Linked DNA regions of Homo sapiens: region 1 is linked to region 2. The links come from fine-mapping of genetic effects on plasma protein levels. A gene starts in region 2. The other region holds a variant in brackets. All regions are shown on one strand. Distances are from middle to middle.

Region 1 (8,329 bases), 67 kb before region 2:
TAGGGGTGGTGACATTCCCCGGTGGGCCCCTCACGTACCCTGACCTCAGGCCTCCTCCTGTGCCCTGGCTCTGCCATTTCCTCTGTCATTTTGTGTGAATAGAATCCATGTCTCATTATCCCCCAGAAAGACGACCTTTCTGCCCCTGCTGGACTGATGCTTCCTCCTCCTCCCTTCCCCAGCCCCATCTGACTCGGCCTTGTTGTCTGGAGGGCGGCTGCAGGCAAGCCAGAGGTGCCAATTCCCGAACCCTCCATAAAACGGGCAGCAGCTGCTTGGGTGATGGTATTTAGTGCAGAGGAAATAGTGAGGCTCAGAGCCAAGAAGTCTGGGCTTGTGGGAGGCAGGGTCTGAGCAGTAATTCCCCAGGTTTTCTTCGCAGGTGGGCAATGAGCAAGAGGTTTTACGTTCCATGAGGCTCTGGACGAGCTGGACAGAACTCCCTGCTGTCCAGGAGCACTGATTTGGTGGAACTACTACCAAGGAGATTTCTGTTCTCCCTGTTCCTTCATCTACAAGGCTACTGCATTGCACAACATCAGGGGGCGCCATTCATATGTCTAAGTGAACAATTCCCCCAGAATTGTGCAGTGCACAGCTTGTCTGCTGCATGTGCTTGCCAGGTAACCTCCTATATACCCAGGGTTTCTGCAGTGAGCCTCCCTTGAGGCTGGGATTGTCTTTGAAACCTTAGCTCATTTGCTCTCCACCATCACACTTGGGAGAGGGAGGCCAGGATTATGACTCCCACAGAGGCCCAGAGAGTGGAGTGATACATTCCAGGTCATCCGGAGAGCTGGGGCAGGACAGTGCTAGAGTCCAAATACTGCTTTCTAGCCACAGGTTGTTGTGCTCAGGGCCCAAGTCTCTCTGGACTGTCCACTGCTCAGCTTGAGGTTGCAGATTTGAAGCCACTTACTTTGGAGAGCTGGGGCCACGGTCTTGGAGAACCTGAAGTTGGAGTTGACTCTTGAACACATCCCTGTGGTGTAGTAGGAGCTCCCACACTCATGAGACCAGAGGGGGCTGCAGGCCTGGGGAGGGCAGTGCAGATCCCCAGTCAGTGAGGGGACCTCAGAGAGGATCGAGGTCCAATGGCCTGAGGCCCACTCCCATCCTCCACGACCCAAGACAGACTTCTATCTGAGGGGTGAGGGGGTGAGGGATCTTCTTTGGGTCTAACTGAACTCTCTCTTGCTGCAATGTGTACTAGTTCCTTTGGTTTCAGGTCTAATGGAGAAAAACTGATCTTGGAGTCTCTTTCATTGTTTTTTCAAGGCCCTGTTCTCCATCTCATCATTTAGGAATATGATACTTCTTCACCCTACCTGCCCACCCCACTCACCCACCCACCATACGGGATCTGGGGAAGCCTTTTCACCCACGGGTGTGAACACTTCAAGGGTCACTAGAATAACTCCTCTGTCTGAGAGGTCGCCTGAAGGGCCTTACTGGGCAAACTTCTAGGACTGGGTCCCAAAAACATGCCATGGCTCATACTGGGGCAGGGGAAGATAAGAATGTCTGTATTCTTTCTGTGAAATGTTCTACCAAAAACACTGATGTCAGTCCCCATTGAAGGACTGAGTGAAGGGTTCTTCTCAGAGTCATTGTCATTAAAAATGAAAGCTCAGCTCCATGCTTCCATTGTTATCCTGCTATCAGGAAACCCAGAGCTAAATTTTGTGCTGTAATTTCCTTTGGTTTAGGGGAGTAATTATTCTACTTCCGATCCCTTTCTTTAATTACTTTCTTTTTAAGCTCAGATCTTAAAGGTTATGTTTTATCTGTGTACTTTGTTGAAGCTGCTGTACATAATGTTTGGAAGTGGCAGGGGACAGAGGGGAATAAAGAATGGATAGATGGATGGATGGATAAGTGGATGGATAGACAGATGATAGATGGATGGATAAGTGGGTGGTAGATGGATGGATGAATGATGTATAGATGGATGGATGAATGATGTATAGATGGATGATGAATGGATGGATGGATAAATGGATGGAAGATGGATGGAAGGATGATGGATAGATGTGAATGGATGGACAGATAGATGAATGGATAATGGATGGATGATGGATAGTGGACAGATGATGGATGAATGGATGATGAATGAATGGGTGAATGAATGATGGCTGGATAGATGATGGATGAATTAGTGGATGGATGATGGATGGATAGATGATCCATGTATGAATGGGTGGATGAATGATAATGGATGGATGATAGATGGTTGATGGATGAATGGGTGGATGGATGATGGATGAATGGATGATGGATGAATGGATGATGGATGAATAAGTGGATGAATGACAGATGGATGATGGATGGTTGATGGATGGATGGATGATGAATTGATGGGTGGATGAATGATAGATGATGGAGGTTGATGGATGGATGCAGGAAGGAATAAATGGAAAGATGGATGATTACATGGGAGATTGATGGTGGATCGATGTATAGACAGATGGGTAGATGAATGCATGGGTGGTTGGATAGATGAATGGAGGAATGAATTGTTGAGAGGGGAATGGACAGATGAGTGAATCAATGAACAGGTGACTATCTATAAACCAAGGATTAACCTACTCACAGAGGCCCCAGAGAATATATCACACCATTCCTCTCAGACCTTCATACCACCTTGTGAAGAAGAAATGTGATAAGGAGCCTGAGAGGGAAAAGGGAGTAGAGACAAAGCCCCTGACGGATATGTGTGTGGATAGGGCCAGGGGTCCTGCTTTGCCTCTGGTTATGGCTAATAAAGGGCTGTGGGCTGAATATACATCAAGGCACCTCATGACTTTCCCTGGCAGGGCCACTATGCACTCAAGTCCCCTTGCATCCCAGTCATCGTCTTATCTTTATGTCTTATTTGTCTTATCTAATTTGTCTTGTGATTCATGCCCCAGATGTCTCATTTGTCAGCAGAAATAGACCAGAACAAAGACTGACACAAGCACCCCATCTAAAAATGGGCAGTAATTTGTACTGGGCTTTCTGGGGTAAATTTTCTCTGAAGTCCTCTCCTGCAACTGTTTCTAGGAACCATCAGTCTCAGAAGGATCCTGTTTGAACCCCAAGCATCGCCCATACTCAACGCAGCTCACTCCAAGGTGGTGGCAAGGAGCAGGCAGTGCCAATCCATTGTGCCGCCCACACTCACTACCATGTGCAGAGTCCATATGTGCTCACCTGGGCACAGAACAGAGACCTGTAAGCAGAGCCTGCTGCTGTCTGTCCCCCAAAGTCCTATTAGACATTACTCGTTTGCTTGTCGCCTCTCTTTCCACCACAGTGTAAGCTCCAGCAGGACAGGGTCTCTATTCATTGCTGAATCCCGGTGCCCAGCACTGGGCTTAGCACATACTATGGTAAGTGCTCAGAAACATCATTGTTTAAATGAATGAATGTTTCTACCACCTCAACCCAGACATGCCCTTTTCTTCCTTGCGAAGGCCTGTCTCTTCTTTAAAAACAAAACAGAAACCTCCTCCAGCCTTCTTCATCTAATCCTGGATAGTTGAGACGGCTTGTCACTCTGTAGCCCTTCCCTCGGCTGTGGTAGTCTGTGTTTACTCATTTATGGCATCCCTTCCAAGTCTTCTTTGGGTGTGTGGTGCAGCCTGCTTCTTTTTTCAAGCCTAGAGCAGAGATTTGACCTCCAGCCCAGACAACTAGCTCCCCAAGGAAAGGGACAGTCCCCCACCAGACTTGTTGGCTATCTACATTTATTCTTGTCCCCTTTCTGGCTGTTCCTCCCTCCTTCGGGATATGCACACAAAAGGGCTCAATTGTTTCTTCTGCCTGGACTGTCCCTGCCAAAACACCCAGGGCCCTGCCACCCGGAATGGCATAAGCAGGGAGCTGGCGGGGGAGCTGCTTCCTGGAATGCACAGGGCCAGGCAGCTTGGTGGTTGGAGTGGGGGAGAGTGGGTGTACAGGATGGACATGAGGGTGTGTAAGGAGACGCTCCACCCCTCCCCACCCCCACCCCTGCCTCTCCTGACCCCAAGCAGTGGCAGGTGGCTCTTACCAGGAAGCTGTTGTCCTTGGGGTTGGTGGCGAGACTAAGGCCGAGGCGCATGTTGTCTTTCCGCTCGGACA[C/T]GTTGGACAGGGTGACCCTTCCTGGGGTTGGGGGAGAAGTTCAGCTTGCAGCCCCCTCCTGCCCGCCCTCTGCCCAGAGCCTGCTGCTGGTCTGGTCACCCGAGGTGCCTCCCCGATTCTCCCTGACCCTGGGGACCTCTGGCTCTCAGGGTTTACAAAGGCCTTCCCCAGACGTACTCTCAGGACATCCTCACAACTGCCTGTGAGATGAGAAAACCGAGTCTCAGAGAGGCCAAACAACCTGCCCAAGGTCACACAGTGAGCACTCACCGAGCCTTCTATCTCCTAGCCCACAGCTTTTCCTCCTCCAGCCATCCGACTGGAGCCCCACTTCCCCGTGTGCCCCCAAGCATGCCATGGCATCCCACCTGGGCTGGCTTCCTTTGTGCAGTATCCCCGCTACGCTTTCTTCCAAGTTGACCCCCATCCACACTTAACCAGTCCTGTGCCCAACTCTTTCTGTGCCCACTTCTCTGCTCATCTGAACAATCAACATGTGACAGCTGAGAGTTTCCTCTCATGGGTAACAGAGCCAACTCAACGAGAGCCTTCCAGAGCTGCCAGGCCTTGCCCAGGAATGCCATTCTGAAGGAGGCTGCCAAGAGAGGTGCTTAGGAGCTGGGTTATCAGCCTGCTGGGAATAGGGAGAGGGTCAGCTCTGCGGCAGATTAGAATCATAAAAAAATTGCATCGCTTAAGGTTTTACCAGATCATCCTGGAGGCCACCGAAGGAAAGGAAGTGAGTCTGAATTCCCCAGAAGTGTGTTGGGGTGTGTGTGTGTGTGTGTGTGTGTGTGCACGTGTACAGGAAGAGGGAGTGGGAGAGGCTGGGGAGCTAGAGTGTGCAAGCCCTAATATGCAGTGTGGACAGCTCTGGGTGGCTTCCCTGCCTGGGGAAGGAGTAATTTCTTTTCTTTTCTCTTTTCTTTTTTTTTAATTTTCCCTTCCCTCCCCTCCCTTTTCTTTTCTTTTTTTTGAGGCAGGGTCTCACTGTGTCACCCAGGCTAGAGTGGAGTGGCACCATCGTGGCTCACTGCAATCTCCAACTCCCAGGTTCGAGCAATGGGAGGAATAATTTCTAAGGAGGCCTTGAGCAAGAATGGGTTGCATTGCACTGTGTCGGTGACTGGAAGTGTGAAGAGTCGGCCTGGCTCCCAGGGCACACAGGTCAGGAAGGCCAGCTGGTGCAGGAGTCTGGGGGTGGGCCGCTGGCAGAGCCCAGCTTGTCAGACACAGACTGTTTTGTGGACTGGAGGGTAGGGGCAGCTGTGTTTGTTGTTTTTTCCTTTTTGGTTTTCCTCAGTTTGAAGCAAGGCTCCTTTTGAAATCTGCCCTTCTTGGCTGTGCTAAGAATGACTGGGCTCGATTTCTCTTTTGTCTGCCCAAACAAGCTGGAGAGAAAATAACAGTAAAGCCCCGGTGTTTCTGAGATGCCTTATCATCTACAAAGCACCGCGCACACCTGCCCTTTCAGGACCCCTCACGGTCCTGGGAGACCCAGGGGTCATCATTTCCATTTTACAGATGAGAACATTGAGGTGTAGAGAGGGTTAGTGACTGCCACAAGGTTACCTGCTGGGAAATTAAAGAGCAAGATCTTTAGCCCAGACCGTGTGACGTTTCATCCCGAGTTCTGTGTTTTCTCCCATCTGATGGCATCACGGTGGCAGTGGGAACTAGAGGGGCGGCTCCATGCTCCACTGGGCTGGGTAACCCTCGCCCCCTTCTGGCTAGAATTCTGCCCTCCGTTTATTTAAGGAACGCAGACCTCACCACCCTGCCCCTCTCCTTCCTCCCTCTCCCCTGGGACTGATGTTTGTAGTGAAACTGTGCAGCTGGCTGAGACAGAGGGGCAGGGGAGGAAAAATCCCTGTGTTGGAGTTAGACAGACTCAGGTTCAAGTCTTTGCCCAACCCCTCTGTGAGCGGGAGAGACTCACGCCTTCCTCAGCAGGTCTGGGTGAGGGTCCCGGGCCCAGATATCTCCCTACACAGGCCCTGGCTTTGAGAATCACATCACCTCCCCCAGCCCCTGCCCCTCATTGAAAACCCTGACTTTATCCAGGTGTTGGAAGGACAGTGCCAGTGGTAGAGTCTTTCCCACAGAGGTGTGAATGGCTGACACCCACTTAGCCTTCCCTGGAGAAAAAGGAAAGAACATTCCTGGCATCGTGCTGCCCAGTGCCTGGAACGGCCGTAGGAAAACCCAGGACTCAGGTTTCCCAGCCTTGCATTTTCCACTGTGGGGCAAAACTGACAGATGTTCTTTCTGCCATGCATTTTCTTCTCAGTGGGAGAGAGAGAACCACACCTCAAATGAAGAGTAATTTTCCTCCATCCCAACTCACTTTGCTACCCACTGCCTCCTAGGCTTGTGCCCCAGCTCAGAAATGCTTTCCAGGGTCTCATGGCTTTATGTCTCCTCCTCCCTCTGGAGAGAAATGGGGTCCACATTGCAACAGAGAAAAAAAAAGATTGGTTCACGAATCCACGTCCCTGCCTGGACCAGGAGCTTCTCTTGGTGGCTGAAGCCCTGAGAAGACTGCCCACTCTTCCACCACACCCCAACCTCATTGCCTCTGTCCCAACCACATGGCCTTTCTTTATCTTCTCCAACAGGGCAGACTTGTTCCTACCTTAGGGCGTTTGCACTTGCTCCTCCTTTGTCTGGAGTGCTCCGCCCCCACCTGTAACCTTCTCAAAAACTACCTGCTCAGAGAAGCCTTCCCTGATCACCTTCTATGGTAGAAATCCCTCTCCACTTCCATCACCCCCTAGCCACTCTTATTACAGCACCTGGTTTATTGCACAGCATTGATCCCTGCCTAAAACTATCCTGCTTCTTAATTTGCCTACCCGATTACTGTCCCCTTCCTTGGCCTCTTGTTCCCCACCATATCCCCAATAAATAGTACAGTGTTTGGTACACTCTAGGTGCGCATTAAAGGTTCGGAAACAGATTAGACCTGGAATGGATCCTAAGGGTTGTCGAGTCCAGCCTCCTTGCTTTACACACGAGTAAACTGAGGCTCAGAGAGAGGATGTGAACTCCGCATGGACACACAGCAAAGAATTTGTACAGCTGGAAGGGGACTCCAGGTTGGCCAGTTTCAGAAGCCTGTGTTCTCAGGGTGCTGATGACCTGGAACCATATGCCACCAACCAGGCACCCTCTTCCCTTAGACGATTTCCTCACTGAAGTTTGGGCCCCGGCTATGCTGGGTTTTGAACTTCCCACCCATGGTGCTGATGCAGATGTGGACAGCGGGAGCCTCCGGGACCATGTGACAGACAGCTGGCTGCCCTGGGGAGTTCTTTGGGCTTTCTTTTGGATGCTGACCTTTTCATCCATCAGCTTATCTCTTGAACCTCTGCCATTCCCGCCCAGTGAGACCCTGCTGCCCTTCCCATCCCCCATCTCCCAGGGAGACCCACCCCACTGCTCTGGGGTGGAGACCCCGCTCCTCGAAGGAGGGAGGCCCAGGGTCCTGGCCCTAGGGAAGTCCAGTCCTCCAGGGCAAAGCCTAGAATTGCAGCTTGTCAGCCAAAATGGAACTTTTTCTCCCTTCTGAGAGCAGAGCAAGCAATGACCCAGCTGCTGTCTGACCTTTAGGACAAGTGGGAGCACTTTAGTGGACTGGTGTGTGTGCTTAGTGGATACACATTTGCACACACATAAGCAGATACACACATGCATGCAAACACACACGAGTAGATTTTAGGAGGGCTTCGGAGGCTGGGGGCTGTTCACAGCATCTCCCTGTTCCAGAATATGCCTGAAAGCTCTTTGGCGAGGAAAAGCTTGCATTTCCGAAGGGCAGTGCTGCATGGTGGTTAAAGGGAGGCCATAGCCTGCATGAACTGGACGCCAAGCCCTGCTCCTTGTGAGCTGAGTGACCCCGGGCAGGTCCCCTCACCTCTGTATGCTGTCATTTCCTATCTGTTAAATGGTTAAATCCCATATGGGTGTTGTGAGGATTAAATGAGTCCAAATGTGCCTCACACATGGTGAACATTATCGAAGATATCTGAATGTTAGCTATTGTTGTTATTATTTCAAAATCAGGAAAAAGACAGGAAGTCCTTTTTTTTTTTTTTTTCTCCTGGGAGAGAAAACTTTGAGTTGAAGGGCAGTGGCTGAGTCAGAAAGAGGAATGGCCTGGGACAGCTAGGGCCTGGGTTGATTCCTGGTGAGCCCCTGGCAAGCTGTGTGACTGTGGAAA
Region 2 (8,272 bases):
CATTTAACCTGATTGTTGTCCTATGAAGTTGTTATTTTGCCCATTTTACAGTTGAGAAAACTGAGGCCTGGGGGCTTATCCCAGAGTCACCCAGGTAGAAAGGATTTGCATCCGGGCAGTCTAGGTCCTAAGCCCATGCACATGCCAATTATTTCTGCTGCTTGGTGAGTGCTTCAGTGAAGGAGGAAGTGAGAGGCAGCAGGGAGGGGGTTTGGCCTCACTGACTTTTTCCTCCAGGTGGGATTTCACACGTCGTGTGACTCAGATCTTAAGTATATAGTATGAAAACTCTCCATGGAATTTTTTTGCAGCTCACTTATTTTAGATTTACAAGATGACCAGCACCAGTCTCCTCCTCTCCTTCTCCTGTCAGTGGTAACAAACTTAATGGGCATTTGACAAAGAATTCACACAGTTAGGATCTGCATGATGGGGTTGTGGAGGGTCGCCCTTGGACCACAGCTCCTATAGAAAGCACTCCATGCTGAAGATGTGTGGGTGTCTTTGGAGCTCACAGCTGCTTAGGGAAAAGTTCCAAATGGCTATGAATCCTTGGTGGTAGCCTACATACAGTTGGTGGGGAGTGGGTGGGCCTGGAAGGGGACTTCAGTGATGAGGATCAGCAGAGATACCATTTTTGAACCATATTAGAGGATTTTTAAGGCTCATTTTGTAGCTGACCTTCCCTGAGTCAGCCAGAGCCCATCACTGCCTGGGGAGGGTTATGATGGATCCTAGAACAATGTTCGACTTTGACCCCCAAAGTAAGCTCTGGAAGCCCATGGTGAGACAATAACACCCAAAGTCAGGCATTGTGGAGAAGAAACAGGGGCTTTTAAAATTCCCCAAATTCCCTTCTGCATAGCAAGAGCAAAGCCAGCTCAGCTTAGAACATATTTTTATCCTAAGTGATAGGAGCTGGGGGTGTTGGTGGAAGGGAGGGAGAATGCAAGGGAAGGTCCCTGCTGTTAGAAGAAGGAAGAGCTCCCCACTACAGGAGGGTGGAAAAAGAGGTTCAGAGAGGGCAAGGTTGAGAGGTAAGATACTGTCTGAGTTCTTCCAGGGCTCACAGCCCTGTGTGGATGGGCTGGGAATGGTGGGAAGAGCATGGAGATAGACATCCCCTCTCTGGGGGTCCACTGTGGGGTAGAGATGGGGTCATGGTGAGTAAGCAGAAAAAGAGTGAGACTCCAGGGTCTGCTTGTGATATGGAAAGATCCAGAAGCTCCTCAGCTAATGGCAGCTGAGGGGCTTGGCTGTCAAAGTGGGCAATGGGGTGGCAAAGTGACAAACTTTCCCTTCTTCCCTGCTCTCCACTGGGAAGGAGAGGCTGGGAGCAAGTCTTGGACCTCTGGAGCCTTTGTACACCTGTGGTGTCTAGCACTGTGCTTTTCCACAGGTTGCTTTCTGTTGGGTAGGACCCCTACCCACAAGGGCCATGTTGCATGGTATGGGCCTTCTCCTTTTCCACACCACAATACACCCACATCAAGAGCATACTGACTTCAAGACAGCCCCGATGGTAAACAAACAAACAAAACAACAACCCTGAGTTCTTATTATGATCAAGAGTTTGGGCCAGGGCTTTGCGGGAGGGACTAGGAAAGTCTTCACTCATTTGGGGCCCTGGCATGTATGTCTCCTCTGATTCTTCAATGTACTTCCTCTAAACTTCTCTTGAGAACTTGAGTTTGAAAGTTATATCTCTGTGTCCTTAGATCCTGAATAGTCAATATCTTGAGTGCTACTGCTGCTGCTGATGATGTTGGAGAAGACAACCTCCTTGAGTGCTTAATACATGCCTGGCACTTTCTAAGCATTAATCTTTGTGATAACTCTAAGTTCTATTATTACCCCCACTTTGTAGGTGAGGAAACTGAGGCACAGAGCCATGGAGTAACTTGCCAAGAGCACAGAGCCCTAACCGGCAGGGGCTAGGCCAATCCCAGGCAGTGAAACTCCAGGGCCTCCACCCTTACGCTGTGTCTGATCTCACTTTGTGTCTTTATGGGGCCTGGCAGATAACAGGTGCTCAGCAAAGATTATGCTTCTAAGAATCATCACCCTTCCTACAGATAGGTTATGACTGTAAAGCTCTGGTCAATGGATCTCTCTCTTTGGACTTGATTACTTTTTTTTTAGGCTTTCCTGTTAGTTTTGTCTACCCCATCACGCTGTCCAGCCTGCAGCTGGAGCTCTGGGAGAGTAGATGCTCTGAGGTCTCACCCTCAACTTGGCCTCTGACAGGTTCCCTGCCCAGCCAAACTGCCATCACCAGTAGACAAGCTTCCTGGTAATCCTCACATTGAATTCATGTGATGCATGGATGAGGTATCAACATCAGTCCTGTCCTGGAGCCTGAGGAGTGAACCCAATGATCCCTGAGACCCTTCTAGTCTTCAAAGTCCACACTGACCAGAGTGGTTTTAAAATATTCATCATCTTCTTTAACTAGTCTCAGAAAATAATACTCCAAAATATGAACATTCCCACTTTCAGGCCCATGCACACTCTACACACTTTTCCAGGGCCAGTTCAAATGATATCTCCTCCTCCAGGAAGCCTTCCTTGCTTATCTGGCTGAAATTGAACTTCTCTTGTTTGAACACCCAGCCCTTGGTTTCCCCAAGCCATTCACTCCCTGGTGCCTCTGTTTAGCTTTCCCTGGCCTTGGCTTATTCTCAGTTACAGGCAGGACCCAGATTGCACACACGCTAGGGCCCCACCCCCAGCTCCTTGCAAGCAGATGTCATTGTTCCAACATTGATTGATATGTTTAATGAATCCCATATTTCAAGAATGCAACTGACCAGACATAACTCAGGAGTGGTTTTCGCCATATAAGCGGAGCTCTGAGTCACAAATCCTGTGTCTTCAGAGGTCCTTTAATGTCATTCTCTGCCCCCTCCTCCTTGAGTAGCAACAACATTAACAACCATTGATTAAAGCCTACTGTGCACCCAGCCCTGTGTTAAGGGCCTTTCTTACAGTGCCTTAGTGCATCCTGACAACTTTACAGGACACGGAATTTGTGTCTCCATTCTTCACATAAGGAAACCTGTTGGAAAGGTCGCATAACCAGTCCAAGATTGAACAGCTAGCAGGGTGCAGAGCCAGAAGTGGAAGCCAGGTCTGATTCCAAAGCCATTGCTCTTAGCTTCCTGAGGTCCAGGCTGTCCCTAGCCCCTAAGGCAGCCACTCCTTCCCAAGGTTCTGATGCAGCCACCTATCTGGAGTCACACAGGAGTGCGTCTCTTTTCTTGTGGCTGGATCTCCTAGTGATATGAGGACAGTTCCTGGAGAAGATTCTCCCCTCCTGTCTAAACACACCTAAATGGGCTTGGCCTCCTCCCGCAGCTGGCTTCTAGTTGCATATTGGCCTGGTGGCAGTTCTTCCCCTGCTCTCCCTTCCAAGCCCCCACAACTCAATGTATCAATGATTGTTTTAAACTGTGACTCTAGGATTCCACTAGCCAGAGGCCCTTTCAACCATGGGCCCTCTGAGAAGCTCCTCTGTAGGCCGACAGGAGGGTGGACTTGCTTCGCGTGGTACCCGGGGACTGGGGCAAGCGGCTGCGGGATAGGGGTCTCCACCTGAGCTCCCTGAGGGCACCTCTCCCACTACCACCGCATCTGACCCCCACTACTGGCCCCAGCTCGGGCCTGGAGCCCACGCAGAAGGGGAGGCAAGGTTGAGCGCCCACACCCGGCCAGTAACCGAGGCGCTGGCCCTTGCCGGAGCACTTGGCCGTCTTCCGCAGAACAGCATCACTGGCAGCCGCCCCGCGTGGAGGGTGGAGCCGGGGAGCCCGGTGTGGGACGGCCGGGGCCAGGGTACCCTAGGGCGGAGAGCTCAGGGCTGGCTTCCCGCTCCCAGCCGCGCGCCCCTCGGGCCGGAGGTTCCTGCCGCGCCCCGACACCTGGAGTGCATTAGGCGGCGGCGCGCGTCTAGGCGACGGCGGCTTTCCCCAGATTATTGAATAATTGCATAATTCCGAGCGCGGGTTGGGAGGCAATGCCGGGTCCCTACCCCGGGTGTCAGGTAACGTTTCGGGGGTCCTGCGCTGCGCGACTGTGTCCCGCCGCTGCTGGCCGGGCAGACGAGAGCTAGCCCCCGCCTACCGGCCATCGCCCCGGGGCTTTGCTCTGTCTTTGGCCGGAGGCACTCTGCGCAGCCCTCACCCCCACCCTTCAGCCCTCCGGGGCCGCCGCGCCCGGCTCTCCAAACTTTGAGATGCTTCCCCGGAGCCAGGCAGGAGGGCAGCCAGGGCACACTCTCTTGGCGCTGATTCCCTTCCCCAGCCGGGGCCGTGCGCCCTCGGCGCTCCCGGGACACCCGAGTGCCCCTGGCAGCCGTGCGGGAACCCCGGCATGGGCCTTGGAGGCACCTAAGGCGCCCAGGAGGGCCACCAGATCTGGGAGCTTTTCAACTCAAGCCTCTTCAACTCTTCCCAAACACACCAAAGAGTCCCGGCTTTCAATAGCCTTCGCACCTCCCTCTTTAGCGAAACTTGACTGAACCGCTAGACTGGGGCCAGTCCCTGGGGGACCCACGTCCCCAAGAGCAGCTGAGGTCTGACCCTGGGAGGAGGGTCGCGTCCCGATCCTGGCCGCTGGATCCAAGCCCCGAGGGCCCAGGGAGGGACTCCGAGAGGCAAGGGGAGGCAGAGGGTGGGCACCTACCTGGCCACAGGCTGAGCGCCCAGGCCACCACCAGGCCCCTGGGCAGGTCCATGGCCCGCGGCACGGCGGCTGGGTCCGGTGTGCAGCGGCGGCGGGGGGCGGCAAGCCAGAGCGGCAGCCTCCTCGGCGCGGCGCCTGCAGCCTGCACTGCGCGGGGCGCCGGGCTCCCTGACAGCTGCGGCTCATTCAGAGGAAGTGGGAGGGCTCGAGCGGAGGGGAGGGGCGCCGGACACCACTCCGGCTCGGGCTCTGGGCCAGTCTCGGCCGCTCTGCCACCTGGGCAGGCGGCGCGCTGCCTCGACGCGCCTGTGCAGCGCTCCTTCTCCGCCAACCCCACGTCAGCCTCTGGAGAAAACTCCAGAGAACCGCTCCTGGGAACCCCCTCACCAGTGTAGCACCGCACCGCCTCAGTCAGATTCTGTTCAGGAAAAGTGGTTTTTATTCCCATTTCCCAGTGAAAAGAGATTCACAAAACTCAGAGGGTACCCAAGCTGGCTCAGGAACACCTGCTGGAACGCAGGTCTCCCTTGGCCAAGTGAGTGGATGTCCCTCAAAGGTCCATTCTAAGACATCCCCGTGTCTCCCTGCACCCTGCGGCTTGAATTGTAGAGGCTAGTGTTTCTTCTGACCCTGGAATACATGCAGATTCGCCTCCACTGCCACTCCCTGAGCCTCCACACCTGAGGCATTCCAAAGCACCCAGGGACACCGTGCACCCCCTCTTAACCTAACGTGAAGCTCTTCTTTGTAACCCTGCCACCTTCTTTCCCTCTTCTAATCACTGGTAGTTAAATTCAATGCACATTTATCTCAAGAGCTTTAAATCCAGGCCCCGGACCTCCACCGCGCTTGTGGAGGCTTTTCCAGCAATGGAGGAAGCCGAGGCAGAGGGTAGGAAGGCCAAGATGCAGGGAAAGCCACAGCAGAGCGCCCTTCCCCCACTTTCTCAGGAAAGGCTTCCTTCACCCCCTCTTCCCGTCCCCACCAGGTTGAGTCCCAGACACATGCTGATATTCCCCAGCCCGCTCTCCCTCATTTCTCTTCATTGTGCTTAGTAGAGAAGCAAGGCATCAATTGGTGTGATCATTTAACTTTTCTCTCCTGTGCAGACTGAAAACACCATCAGGGTAGAAATCTCTGGTTCACAATGGAGTACTCAGCCCCTAACACCCAGGAACAAAGTAGGTGGGCGGGTGGATGGATGGGTGAGTACAGGTGGTGTGTGGGTGCACAAAGGATAGAGTTTTCTATCTGGGAGGTATTGGAAGGGCTTCCCAGAGGAGGTGATGTTCAGTCAGGGCCCCTGAAGATGAGCTGGAGTTTGAGAAGACCCAGGTTCACATAAGTGAAGTGGGCTTGTGCTCGTCTCCCAACCTCACTATCTTTCGGTTGGCTATCTGGGTTTTACTTCATCTTCACCTCACCCATTCAGCCACAGACTCGGGGAAGGTGATTCCGTCCCTGGTGTGTGTGTGTGTGTGTGTGTGTGTGTAAGGAGGCATGCGGTTCAGGCTGAAATGAATCAGTATGTTGCCCTTCCCAGCCCATCGTTTCAGAAAGGGCAATATGACAAAAGAAAAAGTTTTTTTGGGAAGCAAGCTTTCTTGCCTTTCTAAAAGAGCCCCTAGAACAAACAAACAAATGAACTAACTCTCTCTCCTCACCTCTCCCACTCCTGCCTCCTCTCCCAGCCTGGGACAAGGAACTTTGTAGGCTCAGAAGTTGACAGGGTCAGGGTAGGGAAGGAGGATCTGGCCTTGAGATGAGGTGGACACTGGATGACAGAATGGAGGATCTTGTTGAACTCCTGAATGAAGCCACCCCTTAACCCCACTCCCCTTGGGACTTATCAGTTATACGACAGTGAGTCCTCTTCACTGAGTTGAGTTTAAGCCAGCTGAGTTGAATGTAGAACACCCCTACAGCTAGGGAATGGGCTGCAGCCCACATTCCTGCCTTGCACAAATCTCCAGGTGCATCAGAACGACCTGGAGCACGTGCAAAGAATGCAAATTCCCCAAGGATCAGGGCATGCTGGTGGGTGCCCCAGGCACCTCTGACGTGTGGGTGGTCTGCAGCTTGTGCTCAGAGTCTGCATGCTGCTTGCTGAAGGGGCGCACTGTAGTGGCTGTCCTAGCTGCGCTGCTGCTGGTCTCGCTGGTAACAATTCTACCATTCATTCACCTTCACCGTCCTCACAGGTGCCTGGGGAATGGGGGTCCTGAGGATCACTCTGTGTGCTTTTGTGTAATGTGGGAGGGTGAGGGGAGAGGTGTGCCCTCATTTGTTCTTTCAACAGATCCTACAGAGTGCCTACTGTGCCCCTGTGCTCTGTAGGACACACGGAAGGAGAACCCCACACTAGGGCAGCTGGTGATGGAGCTGAGGAGACAAGACATAACCATGTATTTATTTAATCATAATCTGTTATTTATTAATCTATTTAAAACCATTTATTATTTCATCACTATTAAACATTATTTAAATCACACCCAAGGCAGCAGCATATGAGTGACAAGTGCACAATCCAGACTCTAAGGCTGGAGAACTGCAGAGAATTTGGTGAAGGGCTTTATGAAAGCTGTGATTTCTGTTGAATAATAATAATAACTCTTTACATGTACACAGTGTTTTAACTGATTTATTTATTCACATGCCATAAACTGTGCCATAGAATCCAGTAGTTGTTAGTATATTCACAAGATTGTAAAATCATCCTCACTAATTTCACAATATTTTTATCACCCCAAAAAGAAGCCCTGTAACCATGAGCAGTCACTCCCCATTCCTTCCCACCAGTCCCTGGCAACCACAAATCTATTTCTATGGATTTGCCTATTCTGGACGTTGCATATAAATGAAATCATATAATACGTGACCTTTTGAGTCTGGCTTCTTTCCCTTAGCATGATGTTTCCAAGGTTCATCCATGTTGCAACATGTATCAGTATTTCATTCCTTTTTATTGCCAAGTAACATTCCATTGTATGGATCTACCCCCTTTTGTTTATCCATTCATCAGGTGAGGCTTATTTAGGTGTTTCCACTTTAGGTTATTGTGAATAATGTGGCTATGAACACTTGTGCTGCCGGTCTTGCTGGTAGCAGTTCTACCATCCATTAACATAGCATAATGTTAGCATAATGTTCATACAAGTTTTTGTATGAATGTATGTTTTCAGTTCTCTTGGGTATACACCTAGGAGTGGAATTGCTGATCATATAGTAATTTTATGTTTAATCATTTGAGGAACTGCCAAACTATTTTCCACAGTTGCTACATCATTTTAGATTCCTACCAACAATGTACAAGTGCTATGTATAGTGTTTTACTATTTTTGAAATCCCTTTCATATCCATGATCTAATTTAATACTCATCTTGTACAAAATTGTATTTATTTTTTATAGTAAAGAGATTGTATAGTTGAAGATTCTTTCACTTGCAAGTGACAGAAATTCAACACAATCAAACTGAAGCAGAAAATAGAATGTAAAAGGTCATGTAACTAGGAAGTGCAAAGGTGTTCTGTCTGCAGGTGTGGCTGGATCAAGGGTCTCAAATCAATGTTACTGCTCTCTCTCTGTCTT

Direction of the effects. Alleles are on the strand shown, and positions count from the first base shown. The strength of an association depends on the size of the effect and on how common the allele is.
For the plasma level of the protein whose gene starts at base 4,832 in region 2, T is the low allele of the variant in region 1 and C is the other (weak association).

What was found. PIP is the posterior inclusion probability: the model's chance that the variant is causal. The UK Biobank Pharma Proteomics Project read protein levels with antibody pairs (Olink). The fine-mapping took linkage between variants from a reference panel, not from the people measured, so its PIPs are less certain.
Region 1: its variant is fine-mapped to the plasma level of the ITGA11 protein (UK Biobank, PIP above 0.99). The variant lies in the coding sequence of ITGA11. If it changes the protein, the assay may bind it differently, which can mimic a change of level.

The regions. Positions count from the first base shown.
Region 1 is chr15:68,360,671-68,368,999 of GRCh38, forward strand. It overlaps ITGA11 (integrin subunit alpha 11), which reads right to left. Exons shown (of 30, transcript NM_001004439.2): 4 at 4,037-4,128; 5 at 920-1,034. Among named protein-coding and RNA genes, the nearest start is that of ITGA11, 67 kb to the right of the region's middle. RefSeq lists an enhancer at 4,119-5,318. The variant C/T (reference allele first, on the strand shown) is at 4,108.
Region 2 is chr15:68,427,332-68,435,603 of GRCh38, forward strand. ITGA11 (integrin subunit alpha 11) reads right to left here and starts at 4,832. Exons shown (of 30, transcript NM_001004439.2): 1 at 4,684-4,832. The coding sequence starts at 4,735. RefSeq lists an enhancer at 3,233-3,992 and a silencer at 6,539-6,833.